Linked DNA regions of Homo sapiens: region 2 is linked to region 1. The links come from fine-mapping of genetic effects on gene expression. Tissue or cell type: CD8 T cells. Region 1 holds a variant in brackets; the other region holds the start of a gene. All regions are shown on one strand. Distances are between the middles of the regions.

The links. PIP is the estimated chance that this variant, and not a neighbour inherited with it, causes the effect.
Region 2: it holds the start of GNPTAB, and the variant in region 1 is fine-mapped to the expression of GNPTAB in CD8 T cells (CEDAR, PIP 0.95).

Annotation. Positions count from the first base shown.
Region 1 is chr12:101,696,287-101,704,394 of GRCh38, forward strand. CHPT1 (choline phosphotransferase 1) reads left to right here and starts at 1,354. Exons shown (of 9, transcript NM_020244.3): 1 at 1,354-1,848. The coding sequence starts at 1,576. RefSeq lists an enhancer at 828-1,077 and silencers at 1,298-1,637, 1,898-2,087. The variant A/G (reference allele first, on the strand shown) is at 3,779.
Region 2 is chr12:101,826,538-101,834,645 of GRCh38, forward strand. It overlaps GNPTAB (N-acetylglucosamine-1-phosphate transferase subunits alpha and beta), which reads right to left and starts at 4,422. Exons shown (of 21, transcript NM_024312.5): 1 at 4,022-4,422. The coding sequence starts at 4,138. RefSeq lists silencers at 3,554-3,848, 4,205-4,604.

The DNA.
Region 1 (8,108 bases):
CCATCATTCCATTTCCTTTCCTGCATTTGTCAGCATCGTTTTTCACACTAAAGATGAGGAGATCCATATTCCTAAGACATATACGCTTGGTCTGTAGAGACCCTCATTGCTCTAAGGCAGTGGTTGCCAGTTTTTTCCTTAAAGGGCCTAGTAGGACATAGTCCAGGCTTTGCCAGCCATACGGTCTGTCACAACTGAATTCTGCTGCCCTTGTAGCATGAAGGCAGCCAAACAATAGGTAAGGAATAAACATGGCTTTATTCGTGGCACTGAACTTTGAATTTCATATAATTTCACAACACAAAATTGTATTCTTTTGATTTTTTCCAATCATTTAAAAATGTCAAAACCATACTTAGCTGGAGGGCTGTAGGAAAACAGGTGGTGGGCTGGGTCTGGCACACAGGCAGCAGTTCGTGGACCCCTGTGCCAAGTGTTTGACGAAGCCCGTGAGGCAAACTGCACTTGCCGATAGAGGTTGCGCCACACAAGTGTCTTGGAAGCAATTTCTGGCTTGTCCTAGGCCTTAGAAAGTGCGTGCAGATCAGAGCCATGAAGTGAAGAGCAAAGCAAGTGACAGGCCTGTCTCAGGTTGTGCAACAGAACGTGTTTATGACAGATGTCCCCTGTCCAAGTGAGTGCACTGTGAGATAAGGGGCCGGTGACCTACCAATGCGTGTGGCAAGCCAGCCTGTTCCCCCTTGCAGGGGGAGGACACTCCTGCCCTTTATTCCAGGGAAGAGTATGTGTAAAAATATTCACCCTTGTTGGTATCAAATGCGCTGAAGAAAATAGGTATCGGGGTTTCAGCCATTCGGTCTCCTTGTTAGTGTTTCTAAGCCCTGATTTTCAGTTTCAAAACCTTGGTCTCTGAATCCGCAGTGATGGGTCTCTAGAGCGAATACATGGCAGGGCCGCCTTCCTCCGTACAGAAAGGGAGAATTGTGCTTGTGTGTTTTACCAAGCAGGACAGATGGGGCCGTCACCCCCGTGACCCGAGCCCTGCAAAACTGTGTTCTCACACGAAAACCCCCAGGCTCTGCGGGCAGCGTGGTCCTGCAGTGGCTAACACTGGGCGACCGGAGTCGTGTTCCGACCCCTAGGAGAGGAACCGGCTCGGTCGTGGTGCAGCCCGCGAGGAGACGACCTCAGGGCGTAATCCGACGCCGTGGGTTAAGACATCAGACCTCAGGCGCAGTGCAGCCGGCCCCTGGGGAGTCAAGGACCTTGATCGCCGATAACAAGTTGCCGTTGGCGGGCGCCGAGGGTGACCCGCGAGCGCGGCACCCGCCTCCCCGCCCCTAGCAGGACCCCCTCCGCCCCGCCCCCAGCCGGACCCCTCCCCGAGGCCCCGCCCCACCCGCGAGCCGCAGCCGCGGCCCCACAGCTTCTGGGGCTGGGGCCCCGGCAGCCGGGCAGGCCGGCCTGACCTCGACCTCCGCCGTGCGGGCCCGACCGGTGAGTCCAGCCCGGCAGTCGCAGGACCCGGCCGCCAGCCTCTCCCTCCACCTCTCCCTGCCCCCAGCGCCAGGCGCGGGCTGCGCTCGGTGGCGGCGGCGGGGCCCTCAGGCGGCCATGGCGGCAGGCGCCGGGGCCGGGTCCGCGCCGCGCTGGCTGAGGGCGCTGAGCGAGCCGCTGAGCGCGGCGCAGCTGCGGCGACTGGAGGAGCACCGCTACAGCGCGGCGGGCGTCTCGCTGCTCGAGCCGCCGCTGCAGCTCTACTGGACCTGGCTGCTCCAGTGGATCCCGCTCTGGATGGCCCCCAACTCCATCACCCTGCTGGGGCTCGCCGTCAACGTGGTCACCACGCTCGTGCTCATCTCCTACTGTCCCACGGCCACCGAAGAGGTAGGGCTGGCCGATCGCCCGAGCCGGGCCCCAGATGCGCTGCGGGCGGGTCGCTGGAGGCGCCGGGGGAAGGGCGGACCCACGCGCGGCTGAGCCTCTCCCGGGCCCCGGAGGGGCGGACTGGCCACTGCCCCGGGCGGTGTCCGCCCTGGGCCGCCTGGAGACTGTCACGCCACTATCCCAATCCCGTGACCATCCCAAGCCTCCCCTGGGCAGCGGAGGGGCTGTTAAGGTCACTGCCCCAGGTCCTATGTCCGCGCAGATCCTCCCCACGGCCGCGGACGGGCCGGAGGGCGCCTGCCCAGCCGCTATCCCATGCGGCGCCAACCTGTGAGACGGACCCGCGGTCGGGTGCTTTGCACACTGGGGACTGAACACCCCCATCTCCGTCCTGCCTGGCACAGGGACTTGTGCCAAGCCCGAGACGCCCTTTGAATACTTTCGTAACCGTTCGTTTCTGGAAGGTTGAGCTAGTGATCTTGAAATGACCGGTAGCACTGATCAAAGATGAGTTAAGAGGTAACTTCCTCTTTGCTTCATCGACTTTTTCAAGAAAAACAAACTGGAATGTTATCAAGGCAATAATTTTTTTGTCATCACAACCTAGGGATTAAAAAAACCCCAACATTTTATTAGCAATAATTACATTTGACCTTTGTACAAAATAAGGAGTAAATATAGGCTTTGGATAGCTGTTCATCAGAAGCACCCTTTGGGCTGAGTGTGGAGGGATAGGGGGCAGAGTGGAGTTCACTCCCATCTATAGTTTATACTACGTGGGATAAATATTACATTGCACATTCTGTGACATTACTTTCTATTCTCTGCTCCAAATAGTGAAGTCCCTTTATAATCATTTGAGTGTAGGCCTTGTGGAGGACTCATGGAGGTTGAGGTTGGATTAACAGAAATACAGTGGAAATATTTCATGCCCTCCATGCATGCATCCATTTTGTTGTTGTTTTTGAGACAGGGGTTTACTCTGTCACCCAGGCTGGAGTGCCGTGCCGTGGCTCGATCTCGGCTCACTGCAACCTCCGCCTTCAGGGTTCAAGCGATTCTTCTGCCTCAGCCTTCCAAGTAGCTGGGATTACAGGCGCGTGCCACCACGGCCGACTCACTTTTGTGTTTTTAGTAGATACAAGGTTTCACCATGTTGGCCAGGCTCATGCATCCTTTAAAAACAAAAATTTGATCGAGCCTACATTTTAAAATATCTTGTCAATGGATTGGTATGCTTATTATGTATTTCTTTTCTTTTTTTTTTTTTTGAGACAGAGTCTCGCTCTGTCACCCAGGCTGGAGGGCAATGTGGTGATCTCGGCTCACTGCAACCTCTGCCTCCTGGGTTCAAGCGATTCCCTTGCCTCAGCCTCCTGAATAGCTGGGACTACACGTGCCTGCCACCACGCCCGGCTAATTTTTGTATTTTTAGTAGAGACGGGGTTTCACCATATTGGCCAGGCTGGTCTCGAACTCCTGACCTCAAGTGATCCGCCTGCCTCGGCCTCCCAAAGTGCTGGTATTTACAGGAGTGAGCCACTGCGCCAGGCTTATTATATATTTCTTAATAGACATTCCCATTGTCATTTGCCATTGCTATTCATTTACATATTACATATGAAAAAGTAAGCTGCTTTAGTTTTTGGCTGTTTTGCTGCCTGTTTCTAGAATTTACCAGAGGGAGTGTGTTAGAATGAAAGGATAGCTGGGTTGGAAGTGGAGGTCTTGGTTTCTAACTGGCTCTTCCACCACAGACCTGCTGGGTCTGTGTTCCCACAGATACAATAGAAAATAATGCCTGCCAAAACAACTTGACAAGGATGCAGTGAGGACCAAATGATATATATGCAGATAAATGTAAAAGATTGCGATGTGCCTAACAAATTAAAAATATCACTCAACACATTAAAAATATTACTGTTATCAG[A/G]CAACATCCTGAAAACACATAATAAAATTTAGTTTTGATTGGGTCCAGATTTAGCTAACAGCATTTGAATGTTTCTGATATTGGCCAGTTAAGTTGTGGACTCTTCAATGTTATTATTAATTTAAGAAGCATTTGTTGAACACTTAGAAAGAGCAGGGCTTACCAAAAAAGTCAAGAGCTTCTGCCTAGGGAAGTAAAGGGAGGCCTGATGGAAGAGGTACGTTTATGATTAATTAGTTTTTAGGATCAGCCTCATGTGAAAAAAAAAAAAAAAAGGGTGGAGGGTGGGGATTGGAGGCATTTAAAAATAAAGTGCAAAATCAAATGGCCCAAGAAGGGTAAATGAGAGTTAAAAACAAGAGTTTCTGAAATGTATGTCACTAGAACCTTCATATGCTTCTGAGTGACTGATGCAGGGAGGGGAAACGCCATTACAGGATCCACATTGCTTGTTTGGTGAAAGCCCAGCAACAGTGTGAAGAGTGTAGCAGTTTCTGGCTATTTTCTCTTAAGTTCATAGAACTAGCAAATGACTGGATCAGGTAGGATTCAGATCTAAGTTGGTATGACTTCAAAAATAAAAAGATCCTATGTTTTACATAATACAAATATGTAAAGTGCTTTCACATCCATGGTTGCATTTGTGTCTTGTTATCAGCCAAAGAGGTTAGCAAGTTTTCCGCTTCCTACAATGGCCCTCCTACCACCTCAGTATTTCTTCTATCCATCTATCCTGAAGTAACAGTAGTATATGTTTTCATAAGAGGAAATTGAAGCCCAGAGATGTCAAGTGACTTTCAACTGGCTTGGGACTTGTTTTCTGATTCTCAGACTTAAGAATTCTTAGTGTTTTTTTCAGACTTGACAGATTGCTTCCAGAAAGAGTCAGCAAAAACACATAAGGTTTTTCGATTTAGATGCTTGGGCTTATCTACTCATATAGGCTTTAATACTGAGTGCATGAATAATAACATTTGATACGTTTTTAAGCATGATGCTAATTTCTAGAACATGACTGGGGATAAAGGGAAACTAATAGAAAAAAGTTGTGATTTATATTTAGCTTCTGCAAACTGCTTTTCAAGCCATCATTTCCAATAAGGAACTTTGTACTCCAGCCAAATTGAACTTCTTACTATAACAAGGATTTCTCTCCTTCTTATCCCTCTCTTTTCCCCTTCCTCTTCCTTTCTTCTGTACCAGTTATCCAACTATGTACCCATCTTTCAATACCCAATTCTAACACTATATCCTTATGAAAGTTATCTTCCTTTTCCTAAGTCAAATCAACCACTCTGAATTCCCATGATAATGACAATAACTAACTTTTACTGGATTTTTACTGTGTATCAGGGATGATTTTAAGTCACTTTTATTCTTTCATTGACTCCTCTCAACAACCTTATGAATAAGGTACTATTAGTATCATCATTTTATAGATGAGGAAACTGAAGGAAAATTAACCTCTTCTAGAGTGACATACCTTTAAGTGGGGGCCAGGATTCCAAGCCAGAAGCTATGCTTCCTTTGTAGGGCTTTGTAGCTCTCCTGTGGATCTTTACCGTTTTATTTTGGTTGTCTGTGTCCTTATTGAGCAGGACAACTTACCAGATTTTAAGTTCAGACAGCAATTGCTCGTTCATTTGTATAATCTCTATAGCACAGTGCTTTACATCAAACAGATGCTTATAATTTTGCATCAAACAGATGCAATTATTTAGAAAACAAACATTTGTTTGTTTTCTAAATTATTGGCTGCAGGAATGAAATAACACAATGTGATGTCAAGAGATGATGTTTTTCAACCCTTATTCAGTTTTAGCTGTTCTTGGGTTAAATACCTAGCAATTGTTTGGCCTTGGTAGTTTTAAGTAGAGTAAGCAAGTGTTAGGGCAAATGGAGAAAACAAGAACTTTGTCTCCTCACTTTGATGAAGCAGTTCTATCTGAACATCACCCTAAGTAGGTAGTCCCTGGCCCCCATTCCTTGGCTACCTAATCTTAAAATAGAATCACAGATTCTTAGAGTTTGGAAGGACCTTAGAGATTATTTAATGTAACTCCTACATTTATATATGTGATAACCCAGTGATTTGAATCTAGTTCTTCTAACTCCAGCCTAGTAGCAGTCTCTCCTACTAACTCCATGCACTTGTGTTTGACTGGTATAAACTGTTACTCCATTCTCTATTACATATCTGATTAAATGTTTCTGCCCTGTCTTCGTGATCTGTGCATATAAATCCATGTCAGTGTCTTTATTAAGAATATGTTTATGGCAGGGACAAGTGCCTAGCTTAAGGTCAGGTCAAAGGGCATTAATTAATGCATTTCTTGTGTTTATGATGATAAAGAGTTGAACTGAAAAGTAAGTATACCTGAGCATGCCAGAAACACCTTAAGAAATGGTTTATTCTCTGTTTAAATAACTTATTTAAATAACTCATATTTTAAACACAGAATAAACCATTTCTTAAGGTTATCTTTGTACTACATATTGCCTTTGTATTACATATTATAGAGTTATTTTGGGGGGAATAATAGAAAGAAAAGGAAATAACCTTTAGATTCCTACTCAGACTTTTTTTTATAGGTTTGATTTCTTTGAGATCTAGTATATTTCCTTTTTAAGCACTCTTTTACTCCCACTTTTTTTAAACCAGCTCAGTAACTTTTCAAGCATCATTTATTAAGGCAGGACTCTTGTAAGGGCGTGACCTCTCTCATTAAAACAAAATGTGAACTCCAGATTTCCAGGAGATAGAAGCAGGGAGGGACTTAGGGTGAGGCAAGCCAGGACTCAAAATTTAAGGAGGCCTTTGCAGGACTGTGAGAATGAATGTCTCCTTAACTTCTGCAGCCATGGTGCCTCCCTGCCTCACCCTTAGTCCCCGGCCATCTAGAAGGAGACTCTTCAGATAATGTGGAGGTAGCTTCCCTTGATTCCTATGGCTTCACTATACTTAATTCCTAACGAATAAAACTGTTTCTCCTTTCAAATTCTGGTTCAAGTGTGGATAAAACGTGGCATCGTGGTATTTAGAAGAAGCTTTGAATTTTCCTCCTGGTGCATTTGATTGGGGTAGAAGGCTACAACCAGACCACTTGGGTTTTGCGAAGTTGAAGAACAGAACAGAAGCAACCCAGTACAGTTGATGTGGATGATAGATTTGGCCTCAGGGGAATTCTCTTCACACCCCTCTCTCTTTTTGTTCCCCTTAGCACAGTGACAGGCTGGCATTTTCAACAAGAACCCTAATAAGTATTAAAGAAGAAAGAAAACCAAAATGATTCACACTGAATATAAAAATAAAGGCCAGCTTTCAAAGTACAGATTTATCAGGTCATGAGAAAACCCCATTGGCCCTGAAGTGCTGGTTTAACTGCATTTATGTGCGATGTCTGTCTGGTTTCCTTTGCCGCAGCTTATAACCTGCCTAATTTCCTAAAAATGGATGTGCTCTTCTCAAATGCTGGTTCCTAAACTGAGCCAAGACCAAAGGTCTGGGTCGAAAGCAGTGAGCCCCTAGGGCCTTCCTCATTGGCTTGGCAGAGAGTGGTTTTACCTTTTCTGACCACCAAGGCTCCTCTGGAGCCTCCCCAGGCCTCAGGTGGGAACCCTCCCTCCGTAAACAAAGAAGCACCCTCCCCATCACAGGCTCCCAGTAAACAATGTCATAAGCACATCTTAGGCACTTATTGGGTTAGAGCAGTTGCAGGAATGGAGCAATCAGTCATTTCTACTTCTTATGTCTTCCAGAGTCAGGTTAGCAGTCTATTAGAAACTCCATAAATTCTCTTTTAAAAATCGTAGAATCTCTTGTGATCCCTGGAATAATGAAATGAAAAAAAAAATCTTAAGAGTCACCTGTCTGGGTAGAAAGTCTACCTTTAACAGCATACTCGCATTACATGTTTTTCACATATGCACAATATGTCTTCTAATGTCCTTTCTTCCTATGTCTTAGAAATGCAGTTTCTATTTTTATGAAGAAAGAAGTCAATGTTTGGATAATTGAAATCTTCTTGTTACCAGCTGACCTAATGGTTATTGGTTATCTAATTCCCTTCTGCATAGATGTCAATTCATCCAAGGCCATTTCAAGCAAAGAGGTTTTTTTGTTTTGTTTTTGTTTTTTTTCAGTATAAAAATTTACGTAATGAACATTGTATAGTTCTAGTATTTCCTAGTTTGGGAAGATTTTTTCTTTTATATATTATCTATACTTGCTTTTATTTACTATTTTTCTTTATGTCAACTTTAAATCAACTCTTTTAAAAACTTAGACTCTTACTCTGACTTAATATTTATAAAATCATAGATATGATAT
Region 2 (8,108 bases), 130 kb after region 1:
ACCTAGAGATCTTTTTGTACCTTATTTGGCAACTAAACTTGACCTGCCCTGTACTTATTTGGTGGCAAAATGACTAAACTGACTTGAGGCTAGGTATAGTCTGTATTTTCCTGAGTGTGAAGAATTGTGGACTTGTATATAAATGGTTCGATTAAATAATGATGGCCCTGAAATAATAAATTTTAACTCAAAAACACGTTTTAAAATCTATACAGTAGCAACTAACAGAGAACAAATTATTTAAAAACCAGAAGTTTCTAAGCTAAAAAGGATCTTAAGAGCAGTCAATCTAGTAACACCATTTGTGGAGCTAACTAATTTACAATAGACTGATTACCTGCTACCTACAGTCCAAGGCAATGCATTTTTGTGACCACTAGTCCCCATTCTGAAGGCTCTCCCTGTGGGAGTTGTTTTTTTTTTTTTTTTTTTTTTTTTTTTGAGACCAGGTCTACCAGGCTGGAGTGCATGGCACAATCACAGGCACTGCACCTCAAACTCCTGGGCTCAAGCAACACTCCTGCCACAGCCTCCTGCCTCCTGAGCAGCTGGGACTACAGGCATGTGCCACCACACCTAGCTAACTTTTTTTATTTATGTATTTATTTTTGAGACAAGGTTTCACTCTGTCACCCAGGCTTAAGTGCAGTGGTGCAATCACGGCTCATGCAGCCTCAACCACCAGGGCTCAAGTGATCCTCCCACCCCAGTCTCCCAAGCAACTGGGACTACTCTACTTTTTTTGCAGAGATAGGGTTTCGCCATGTTGCCCAGGCTGGTCTCAAACTCCTGAGCTCAAGCAATTCTCCTGCCTCGGCCTGCCAAAGTGCTGGGATTACAGGTGTGAGCCACCACGCCCAGCCTTTATTTTTATTTTTTTTTGTAGAGACAGGGTCTCCTTTGTTTCCCAGGCTTGTCCAACTCCTGACTTCAAGCAATCCTCCAGCCTTAGTCTCCCAAAGTCCTGGGATTACAGGCATGAGCCACCTCACCCAGCTTGTTTTGTTTGATACTTCCTTCCCTCAATTCTACTTCTCGAAGTTTGGATGAATATAGAAAAGGCTTATCAAAATACAGCATCAAATACCTGTTATATTGAGAGGAGGAGACGATAACAAATTTACAGTTAACAATGATCTTCTGAGGGCCAGGCACAGTGGCTCGCACCTATAATCCCAGCATTTTGGGAGGCCAAGGCAGGCGGATCACCTAAGGTCCAGAGTTTGAGACCAGCCTGGCCAACATGGTGAAACCCTGTCTCTACTAAAAATACAAAAACTTAGTCTAGCGTGATGGCGGGTGCCTATAATCCCAGCTACTCCGGAGGGTGGGGCAGGGAAAATTACTTGAACCTGGAAGGTGGAGGTTGCAGTGAGCTGAGATCACCCCACTGCACTCCAGCGTGGGCAAGAGTGAGACTCTATCTCAAAACAAAACAAAAAAAACAATGATCTTCTTAGTCCAAAAGGACTTACAATTAGTGAGCTTACAATCCATTACAATTAGTGAGATTATTAACAAGTTGGTAATATTAACTATATGATCAAAGTATTCTGATTCAAGGATATATTTCAAAATAAGGTTTAAGGACATAAAAGAGTTGATAATATAATAGCAGCAGTAGCCATGACCATTTAATGAGGGTCTGTTATGTAGTAGGAACTGTGTGAGGTGCTTTACATACCCATCTTATTTAATCCTCATCAACCCTGCAAGGAAGGTAATCTGGCCTCCATTTCAAAGATAAGGAAGCTCAGAGAGGTTAAATATCCTTCCCAAGATCAGACAAGGAACAGCCTGGGCTGTTTGAGAAACCATAAAAAGGGGTGCTCAAGAGCACAGCTTAGGCTGGTCGTGGTGGCTCACGCCTGTAATCCCATGGGAGACCAAAGCAAGCGAATCATGAGGTCAGGAGTTCGAGACCAGTCTGGCCAACATAGTGAAACCCCATCTCTACTAAAAATACAAAAAATTAGCCAGGTGTGGTGGCACGCACCTGTAATCCCAGCTACTTGGGAGGCTGAGACATGAGAATCACGTGAACCCAGGAGGCGAGACATGAGAATCACGTGAACCCAGGAGGCAGAGGTTGCAGTGAGCCGAGATTGCGCCATTGCACTCCAGCTTGGGTGACAGTGTGAGACTCCATCTCAAAAAACAAACAAAAAAAAAAGCACAGCTCTGAGCCAGCCTGGCTTGGTTTGAAGCCCAGCTCTGCCACAAATTAGCTGGATTCTAATGCAAATGCATCCATTTCATCACCTATAAAATGGTTATAATAATAGCACCTATCCCACAGGGGTGATGTTGTGAGGATTAAATCAGTTAACATATGTAAAGCAATTAAGAGAGTGCCTGATACCTGTTAAGACCAATATAAGTATTAGCTATTATTATGATCATTATCAACTGGAGTCAGCAATCAAGGCCAAATCTGCCTAATCATGCAGCTCCTCTTTTCCATTATGCCTTACAAGTTAACCACAGGCCAGCTGCCTTCACCTCTCATGACACCTGTTGGCACTGTCTGCCTCTCATTTCTCTTGTCTGTTCCAAACCTTATGATCTGTGGCCATTTCAGGACTGCAACAAAATGTCTCTCTTTTGGTAAACAGCCAAGCATGGAATGAAAGCAAAAAGAAAAGGATATAAAATGAAAAATTCGGGCCAGGTGCGGTGGCTTACACCTGTAATCCCAACACTTTGGGAGGCCAAGGCAGGCAGATCACTTGAGGTCAGAAGTTTGAGACCAGCCTGGCCAACATAGTGAAACTCCATCTCTACTAAAAATACAAAAATTAGCTGTGCATGGTGGTACGCGCCTGTAGTCCCAGCTACTCAGGAGGCTGAGGTAGGAGAATTTCTTGAACCTGAGAGGTAGAGGTTGCAATGAGCCGAGATGGAGCCACTGCATTCCAGCCTGGGCAACAGAGCAAGACTCTGTCTCAAAAAAATAAAATAAAATGAAGAATTCTAACACCTGATGCCTTTAAGTCATCTTCACACTGCATGGGACTTAATAAACAGTTAACTCAAAATTAATCAAGGCCAAAAAAATCACACAAAAGCAATAAGGCACCTAACTACACACAGATACATTAAGTTGCAACACATGAAACAAAGACGAGCAAGTACTATAATATTAAGTACATATTTCACACTTACAAATCTGGAGCTTTCTCACCCTTATGGTAAGACATTTTTTCCCAGCCTCTAGAACCAAGAACTACTAAAAAAGTACATGCTCAGAATTCATGCCATATAATTTAGCCATTAAACAAACACTTGCACTGCATTCTCTGGCAGTACCTGGCACTGTGCTTGGGCCAGGGTTACAGTATTTACAGACAGCACCTTCTCTTACGGAGCTTACAATCCAGCATGGGTAAAGACTTCAAGCAAATGTATACTGTGGCATTTCTAAAAACTACTCTGTTAAATTTTAAAACCTTTTGTAACCTCCTACCAAAAAAAAAAAAAAAAAAGAAAAAGAAAAAAACTAAAACTAAGGAACAGATTTCAAACCACTTAAAAATACAGCTTTCCTCCCCGTTGCTAAAAGTGGCTTTCTTGGGCCAGGTGCGGTAGCTCATGCCTGTAACCCCAGCACTTTAGAAAGCCAAGAAGGGAGGATCACTTGAGCCCAGGACTTCCAGACCAACCTGGGCAACATAGGGAGACCTCCGTCTCTATTTTTAAAAAACGGTGGGCGAGGGAGCAATATCTAAAATCACATACATGCCTTTTTCCAGTTCTGACTTGCTCATAGTCTCTGCACACGTTTATGATAAAGAATACTGTATTTGGCCGGGAGCGGTGGCTCACGCCTGTAATCCCAGCACTCGGGGACGCCGAGACAGGGCGATCGCCTGAGCTCAGGAGTTCGAGACCAGCCTGGGCAACATGGCAAAACCCCGTCTCTAATAATGAAAAAATACATACTGTATCGGGGCATCGCGGGGCACGGCGAGGGCAGTGCAGGGTCGAGGCGCCCGGTCCAGGCTGCGGCGCCGCTACTCACCTCTCCGAACTGGAAGGCGGAGACGATGGTGACAACGACGCCCAAGAAGCACACGTAGAGCCCATACCTGTGGGACAGGCAGGTATAGGTCTGTCTCTGCAGGAGCTTGAACAGCATCACCCCTTCACCGCCACGCCACGCCCCGAGGAGCCTGAGCCGCCGCCGCCGCCGCCGCCGCCTCAGCGAGCCGCCATTCAGGGGCCCCGGTCGGGCCGCCGCGCGCAGGTCACAGCCTCCGGGCGCCGCTCATTGCAGCTCCGGCGACGGACGCCCGCTCGGCTCCGCGCCGCGGCCGCCGCTTCCGGGAGCCGGGAGCCCACGCCCTCGGCGCGGCGGAGGCGGACCTGCGGCCGGCGAGGCGGCCGGCGCCGCCCGGGTCTGGCCGGGCGAGAGGCGGCTGCGGCGGCGGCGGGGTCTCCAGCGCCACCTGGAGGACGGAGGGGCATAGGGAAGGTGCGCGCCCTCCCCACCTGCGCTTGCGCAGCGGGCCCTGAGGGCTGGGCTGGGAGGGGCGGAGCTGAGCTGGGATCCACTTACCCGGTTGGGCAGGCGACCAAGAGAAAACTGCCCCCTGCGTCGAGACTGTGCCATAGACGGTACTATAATGCCATGAATATTTTTGTGCATAAAACCTTCTCTGCACTTAGCATTCTCTGCAGAGTGCTAAAAGGAGATGCTGTATGTGGCTCCTTTCCTCCAACCCCCAACTATATTGTTTGAAAGAGGAAACCTTTGGGTTAAATCTGCCAAAACCGAATTTCGTTCATTCATTTAGTCGTTAAATATGTAATTTGTGCCTGTTAGGTGGCATAGTGCTTGGTGTCAGGTATTCAAAAATGAACTAGACCTGGCTACTGTTCTCAGAGAGTCTAGTGGGGGAGATAAACATGTAAACCACTAAATACAAGAGTTGTTATGATAGAAATCATGCGATGAACTGGAGGGGAACCAGCTCAGGGGTGGCCAGGTAATCCGACTTTGACAGCAGGTTTTTCCCACGAGATCCTTTCCTTGGTGCCTCTGATTTACGAAAGGGAGATCTTTTTCTTAATCCCAATGCACCCTAGTCAATAAGATTTTTTTCCTAGTCACCCTGGGAAACAATACACTTATCTAATGTTGCCATCATTCAAAGCATTTTTAAAAATATCTTGGGAACCAGCTTCAGGAAATACTCAAATTCGCACCCTCAGTTTGATGGTCAGGTGGAATTAACAGACTTGCAAAAGGGGTTAGCTTCACTCCAATCCAAGGCAAGATTTTTTACACTTTGCAGTCACTTCTTTTAATCCTTCTTTTAAAAAAGATGATTGATATATGCTATATGTACATGGCAAAAGATTATTGCAGTTGTACAAGACACATATAGTTCTGAGGTCTTTTCAAGCATGATAACAGATCTGAGGACTTAATCAGAAGGGGTAAAAAAGCATGGTAACAGATATAAAAACATCTGCCACTCAACAGGACTCTCAGGATAATGGCCAACATTTATGTAGCATCTGCCATGTGCCCAGCTCATCTAATCCTCACAATAATCTTATAATGGAGATACCATTATTATCCCCATTCTACAGATCAAGAAACTGTGATGAAAAAAAGTAACTATCTAACATCACACAAATAGTAAATGACAGAATTGAGATTTGAACCAGGTACTTAGGCTGTAGAACAGGGCCAAGATTAGGGGAAGGTACTGTGAAATGAGTCATGCAAGTTTGGAGTGAGATTCTGTCTTTGTTTATAGTTTTGATATCGGGGCTGGGTGTGGTGGCTCATGCATGTAATCCCAATACTTTGGGAGGTCAATGTGGGAGGATAGCTTGAGCCCAGGAGTCTGGGAGCCCAGAAGTTTGAGACCAGCCTGGGTAACAGACCCTGTTCCTATTAAAATAAAAAAAAAATTTAAAACGTAAAATAAAACATAAAGTTTGGGTGTTTTGCTTTTCATGGATATTCTTCAGTAATGTTTTTTGTTTTTTTTGTTTTTTGGGTTTTTTTTTTTTTTTTGAGACAGAGTCTTGCTCTGTTGCCCAGGCTGGGTTGCAGTGGCGTGATCTCAGCTCACTGCAACATCCGCCTCCTGGCTTCAAGCAATTCTCCTGACTCAGCCTCCTGAGTAGCTGGGATTACAGGCACATGCCACCACCCCCGGCTAATTTTTGCATTTTTAGTAGAGATGGGGTTTCAGCATCTTGGTCAGGCTGGTCTTGAACTCCTGACCTCAAGTGATTCACCTGCCTTGACCTCCCAAAGTGCTAGGATTACAAGCATGAGCCACTGCGCCCAACCATTAATTTTGATTTTTTAAAAATATTGCATTAGGCTGGGCACGGTGGCTCACGCCTATAATCCCAGCACTTTGGGAGGCTGAGGCGAGTGGATCACCTGAGGTCAGGAGTCTGAGACCAGCCTGACCAACATGGAGAAACCCCATCTCTACTAAAAATACAAAATTAGCAGGGCATGGTGGCACATGCCTGTAATCCCAGCTACTCAGGAAGCTGAGGCAGGAGAATCACTTGAACCCGGGAGGCAGAGGTTGCGGTCAGCCGAGATCGTGCCATTGCACTCCAGCCTGGGCAACAAGAGTGAAACTCCATCTAATAAAAAAAAAAAAAAAAATATATATATATAGCATTAAAATATTATTCCTCTTGATTAGTGAGTTTTTTGGAGTTCCCTCGGATTTTCCACCCAAGACAAGTGCTTCACTGTCCTCACTTTAGTCCTAGCCTTGCCTAGAACCTGTCCTTCTTAAAAAGTATGCTTTGTTGTAGTATGAATTACCCTTAAATTTTTCCTTTATCTTTAGGCTCCAACTAGACAGCCTCAAGGGAGGTCAGGAGCATTGTCTAAGTCCTTTCTTCTAGAGAACTTGCTCTTGTTCACTCCCTTTTCCCCCTCCTCAGGCAGTATGGTTGAACTTAAATAAAATAAATGTGGGTGCAATATGATATACCTGTAGTAGCTACCTTATACAGTTAGGAGGGTTATGTAAAATAACACATGAAAATGCTCAAGTGCCTGCGACATTTTTAGTGTTGGAAAAATTTAAGAAAATTAACATTTAGCCTTGTTCTGAAAGCAATGAGGTTTTCAGCAGGAGAATTAACTGATTAAATATGCACTTCAAGAACATTAGTAGTATGTAAATGCATAAGTTGTGGAAATTATTTTTTTAAATTTTTTGTAGAGACAGGGTCTCACTATGTTGCCCAGGCTGGTGTTGAACTTCTGGGCTCAAGCAATCCTCCCACTTTGGCCTCCCAACATGCTGGGAGCCACCTCACCTGGCCTGGAAATGATTTTAAACTCTCCACATCTGAACAGTGGAAAAAATATGCAGTAGCATCCCATTTATCTGGAAATATTTTATCTGGCAACCTAAAAGAGCCAGAAAAGCCAAAAGATCAAAAAGGATTCCCAGGAACCCAGTGAAACCCCTGAGTTTTGCTTTTAGAAGAACCCCACAGTCCCTCTCAAAATCTGATAAATATAATTCCGAGAAACTGTCATCTGGGTTCTCAGTCTATAGCAGATAAATAAATAAATAAAGAGGTCCCTTTCCTGCCTTTCTCCCAAACATGAAGTAACTAGAGAAAAAAATGATGTAGAAAATATTTTTTAAAAAAGTCAAATGAATTCCAAAAATGTAATCATCTTCACATCAATGATGTAGATATCTGTAAGAGCAGAGAGATAGAGTGAAGGCAACAGTACCTCCAAGTACAGTCAGTAGGCTAATATGGCATATAGTGGTGAGCTCAATCTATGAGAAAAGTTTAAGTAATGGTTAGTGTTTATTCAGCATTTGTGAATGAATGCTTTGTGCTGGGCATTTTATTGGACATTGAGTCTATCTCGTAATGACTTAGGTACCCCAATACTTGGGTACCAAGAAAGACATGGTCCCTGCTTTTGTGGGATTTACACTCTGGAGGGGCATATATATATTGGATTAGTATTGTGAGGGGCACTAACCTAGCCTGGGAGGTCAGGGATGGCTTCCTGGAGGAGGTGATACTAAAGATTGAGCTGGAGGACTCAAGATGTGGGGTGGGAAGGGAACTATGTTCCAGGCAAG